Regions from separate parts of the Homo sapiens genome. Here region 2 is linked to region 1. A link means that fine-mapping ties the variant in region 1 to the expression of a gene that starts in the linked region. Tissue or cell type: whole blood. Region 1 holds a variant in brackets; the other region holds the start of a gene. All regions are shown on one strand. Distances are between the middles of the regions.

The links. PIP is the estimated chance that this variant, and not a neighbour inherited with it, causes the effect.
Region 2: RMND5B starts here. The variant in region 1 is fine-mapped to the expression of RMND5B in whole blood (INTERVAL, PIP 0.93).

The regions. Positions count from the first base shown.
Region 1 is chr5:178,168,469-178,171,222 of GRCh38, reverse strand. No RefSeq gene overlaps it. Among named protein-coding and RNA genes, the nearest start is that of NHP2, 16 kb to the right of the region's middle. The variant G/ACAAAG (reference allele first, on the strand shown) is at 1,103.
Region 2 is chr5:178,129,924-178,132,532 of GRCh38, reverse strand. It overlaps RMND5B (required for meiotic nuclear division 5 homolog B), which reads right to left and starts at 1,519. Exons shown (of 11, transcript NM_022762.5): 1 at 1,479-1,519; 2 at 1,157-1,296. RefSeq lists enhancers at 1-415, 1,694-2,345, 2,346-2,609 and a silencer at 1,373-1,962.

The DNA of each region.
Region 1 (2,754 bases):
ATTAACCTTTGTTTTTCTTCTGTTTCCATGGAAACACCTCCTATTAAAAATCTGTTTGCCTTCATCACATGCAGAGGCCTAGCCCATCTCCAATGCCACCTTCTGGATGAGACACAGCTATTTAAGCTGATACTTTCTCAAAAACGAGACACTTTCATGAGGATTCATAGCTCTTTTTGTAGCCTGTCAAATATATATACCCAACCAATCTGTCATCATATCCACTTACAATTGGCAGTGGTGAACCTGCATGATAATTAAGAATTCAGGAAGTGCCTCGATAGCCATGTGAAACATGCACCAACAAATCAAAGGTGTGTCTGACCCCACACTGTTGCTAGACCAGCGGTTAGCATCCTGGTCCAGGTCAGAACCATCCTGGTGGCAAAGCTGCTTGTAACATTGGCCCTGATTGCAGAGATGGGCATATCCCTCTGTTGTAGGGTCCACTGCTGTTGCACCCCCTGTATAGGAATGCAAGACAGGCATTCTCTCAGAGGCTCTCAAGACCTCGCACTATATTGCTCCAACAAACATCATCTGCAAGCCCAAGTACTCATGAATATTTACAACTCCAAATACATCAGTTCCATTCTGATGCCCAAAGGCTATGCTCCCTCTCAGCAGGAAGTAGCCAGAATGAATATGGTGCCCAGATCCCATAGAAATGGAATGGAATTTGTCAGTGGGGAAATGTAACTGAGTACCCCCATTTTTCTAGTGGGTAGTTTAATTTTTCCTCTCTCTTCTTTTGTCTTTCCCCCGGTTGCCCACTTTCTACTTAGCCTTTTAGAAATGGAAATATAGGCTGGGTGCAGTGACTCACACCTGTAATCCCAGCACTTTGGGAGGCCAAAGCAGGCAGATCGCTTGAGGTCAGGAGTTCCAGACCAGCCTGGACAATATGGTGAAACCCCGTCTCTACTAAAAATACAAAAAGTAGCCGGGCGTGGTGGTTGGCGCCTGTAATCCTAGCTACTCAGGAGGCTGAGGCAGGAGAATCGCTTGAGCCTGGGAGGCGGAGGTTGCAGTGAGCCAAGATTGTGCCACTGCACTCCAGCCTGGGTGACAGAGGGAGACTCCATCTCAAAAACAAAACAAA[G/ACAAAG]CAAAACAAAAAAACCCACAAATATAGCCTTCTACCTCCCTTTCACCAGTCTCCCTACGGGCAAGTTTATCTAACTGGACTCCAAGATGGAACTCTCAAGAGTTAACAGTTGATTTGCAAACTGAAGCATTCCTGCTAAGAAACTCTCACCCTAAAGAGGTTGCCTTGAGAGATACCAGCCTGCCCATGAAGATGCCAGCAGTCACCAGCTCTACTACTGGCAGATAAGGACCCCCTACCTTGCTCACTTCCTTCCATGCCTTTTAAAAGTTCCTGCTTTCTGCTCCAAAGGTGAAGTGGCATATTTAAAGGCAGGATGCCTGTGCCTCTTCCCCTAAGCTAGCTTTGGAATAAATCATCTTATTTCTACCAGATCCTGATCTCGTTAATTGGACTCTGCATATGGCAAGCAACTCACCTTCTGTTCAGTTACATAATGGTGTGATCATGGCTTACTGTAGCCTTGAACTGCTAGACTCACGCAATCCTTCCATCTCAGCCTCTCAAGTAGCTAGGATTTCAACATATATTTTCTGTATTAATCCGTTCTCACCCTGTACTATCTGAGACTGGGTAATTTATAAAGACAAGAGATTCAATAGGCTCACAGCTCTGCAGGCTGTACAGTAAGCATGGCTGAGGAGGCCTCAGGAAACTTATAATCATGGCAGAAGGCGAAGGGGAAGCAGGCACATCTCTACAGGGAGAACTACAAAACACTGCTGAAAGAAATCATACAGGACACAAACAAATGAAAACATTCCATGCCCATGAATTGGAAGAATCAATACCATTAAAATGGTCACACTGCCCAAAGCAATCTACAGATTCAGTGCTCTTCCTATCAAGCTACTAATGTCGTTTTCCACAGAACTAGAAAAAAAAACTATTTAAAAATTCATCTGGAACCAAAAAAGATCCCAAATAGCCAAAGCGATCCTAAGCAAAAAGAATAAAGCTGGAGGCTTCCCATTACCCAGCTTCAAACTATACTATAAGGCTCCAGTAACCAAAACAGCACAGTACTGGTACAAAAACAGACACATAGACCAATGGAACAGGACTGAGAGCCTAGATATAAAGCCACACACCTACAGCCATCTGATCTTTGACAAAGTCAACAAAAACAAGCAATAGGGAAAGGACTCCCTATTCAATAAATGGTGCTGGGATAGCTGGCTAGCCATATGCCAAAGATCGAAACTGGACCAACTTTCTTTCACCATATACAAAAATTAACTCAAGGCTGGGCACAGTGGCTCATGCCTGTAATCCCAACACTTTGGGAGGCTGAGGTGGGCAGATCACTTGAGGTCAGGAGTTCGAGACCAGCCTGGCCAACATGGTGAAACCCTGTCTCTACGAAAAAATACAAAAAATTAGCCGGGCATGGTGATGTGTGCCTGTAATCCCAGCTACTCGGGAGGCTGAGGCAGGAGAATCACTTGAACCCGGGAGGCAGAGGTTGCAGTGAGCTGACATTGCGCCATTGCACTCCAGCCTGGGCGACAGAGCAAGACTCTCTCTCAATAATAATAATAATAATAACAACAACTCAAGATGGGTTAAAGATTTAAATGTAAGACCTGAAACTATAAGAATCCAAGAAGAAAACCTAGGAAACACCATTCTGGACATCAGCCTTGGGAAAG
Region 2 (2,609 bases), 39 kb after region 1:
TCTCCTTTGTGTTTATTTATGTATTCCCTTTTGTCCCTATTCTTCCCCTCTCTCCCCACCACACCTGGCTAATTTTTTTGTTGTTTGTTTTTGAGACAGAGTCTTACTCTGTCGCCCAGGCTGGAGTACAGTGGCACGATCTTGGCTCATTGCAACCTTTGCTTCCCAGTTTCAAGCGATTCTCCTGCCTCAGCCTCCCAAGTAGCTGGAATTACAGACACCTGCCACCACACCCGGCTAAATTTTGTATTTTTAGTAGAGACGGGGTTTCACCATGTTGGCCAGGCTGGTCTTGAACTCCTGGCCTCAAGTGATCCTCCCGCCTTGGCCTCCCAAAGTGCTGGGGTTACAAGCGTGAGCCACTGCGCCCAGCCTAATTTTTTGGAGCGACAGGGTTTCACCATGTTGGCCAGGTTGGTCTTGAAGTGCTGAGCTCAAGCCGTCTGCCAGTCTCAGCCTCCCAAAGTGCTGGAATTACGGGCGTGAACCACCGTGCCCAGCCAATTCTTATGCTTTTGCAGCCGCGACCTCCATCCACTCTCTACCCTACATGTCACTCCTCTGCTTAAAACCAAAAGATTTCCACTGTACTTAGAAAAAACTCCACATTCCTCTCTCTGACCTACAGACTCTATGTGACCAAACCCCAATTATCCGACCTCATCTCCTACCACTCTTTCCCTTTCTTACCATACTTTAGCCACACTAGCTTGCTTTCTGTTCCTTGACTATACTCTCAGTTGATTTCTGCCCTAGGGCCTTCACACTGGCTGTTCCCGCTGCCTGGACCACTCTCTTCCCGTATCTTCCTAAGCCTGCCTCCTAATTTGGGTCTCAACGCAAATGTCCCGTCCTCAGAGATGCTCTGCTAGACCACAGTATCTAATACTGACCCCTCCGCCCCACCCTCACACCAGTTACCGTGTCATATCGCCCTCCTCCATTTTTTTTTTTTTTTTACTATACAGTCCTACTTGAAGTTTCTAATCTTTCTTTTCTCATTAACCAAAACTGGAGGGAGGAAAAAGCCCATCATTTTCCCTGGACAGCAGCGCCTACTGGGAGTTTCACCCGCATTAACATGCAAACGACAGGCAAACTCCTAGTCATCCTTCCAAAGACCCTGCTCCATAGCCCTGCCGAGCCCGGTGCGCACCTGCTCACTTCCGACCCAGCGCGGTCGCACGAGGACTGGACGTTTGAGTCCGAGCAACTCCCCCCGGCTGAGGCGGCTCTTCGGGGGCTGGGCCGGGACCTATGAGTCTGGGACTCCAGCTCCCGGCCCAGGGCCGACAACTGCGAAGAGAACAAGCCCAAGGGCAGATTGTTCGGGGCTTAGTCGTGGGTAGCAGGGGTTCTGGAGAAGGCTGGGGCCCGGGAGGCCGGCCGAGCTTTCCCCGCCGCGCGCCTCAGCTCCGCCGGCCGCTGTGCCCGCCCTCGGCCCGCACCTGCCGGCTCCCAAGCCCGCCCGCTCTCACCTCGCCCCGCAGCCCCGGCCCCGGCTTCCGGCGCCACTGTCATCGGAACCGGAAGCCGCGGCGGGCGATCGGCGGCCCGGGCCCGCCCATTGGCGGTTTTGCGGAGGGGTGGCCGTCCCACGAGCCCGCGGCTTTGCGCCTCACCGCCGAGGCTCCCCGCCGCGCATGCCGAGTGGAGTCGCCCGCGGGAACCGGGCGGCGGCCAGAAAAGCCGCGCCTGTAGTCCTCTGGGGGTCGCGCCTGGTCGTTTCCAGGTTCCGAGTCCCTCCGGCCCGGCCCCGGGCCTCCCAGTCGGCGGAAGCCCCTGGCCGCGACCGCTCCTCGCCGGCGGGCGGGTTCCCCACCCGGCAGAGGCGTCGGCCTCGCACTCAACCCAGCACCCGACTCCCGGGTCAGAAGCCCCAAGCCCCAAGTGGTTACGCTTACAGCGCTGCCCGCCCTGCTCAGTGAGGGCGGCGCGGGGGCCGTGAGGGGCAGTGGCTGGGCTAGGTGCGCACCGGCCTCGGCAGGGCTGTGGAGCAGGGTCTTTGGAAGGATGACTAGGAGTTTGCCTGTCGTTTGCATGTTAATGCGGGTGAAACTCCCAGTAGGCGCTGCTGTCCAGGGAAAATGATGGGCTTTTTCCTCTCTCCAGTTTTGGTTAATGAGAAAAGAAAGATTAGAAACTTCAAGTAGGACTGTGAACAGGCTTAGGGATCCTGGACAGAGCCTAGAAATCTCAGGAGAACTGAGAGCTCTTGAAATATGAAGTGATGCTTAAAAAAAAAAAGAAAACTCCAGGCCGGGCGCGGCGGCTCACGCCTGTAATCCCAGCACTTTGGGAGGCCGAGGCGGGCGGATCAGGAGGTCAGGAGATCGAGACCATCCTGGCTAACACGGTGAAACCCCGTCTCTACTAAAAATACAAAAAATTGGCCGGGCGAGGTGGGGGGCGCCTGTAGTCCCAGCCACTCGGGAGGCTGAGGCAGGAGAATGTCGTGAACCCGGGAGGCGGAGCTCGGAGTGAGCCGAGACGGCGCCACTGCACTCCAGCCTGGGCGACAGAGCGAGACTCCGTCTCAAAAAAAAAGAATAGAAAACTCCGGGCCGGGCGGCTCACGCCTGTAATCCCAGCACTTTGGGAGGCTGAGG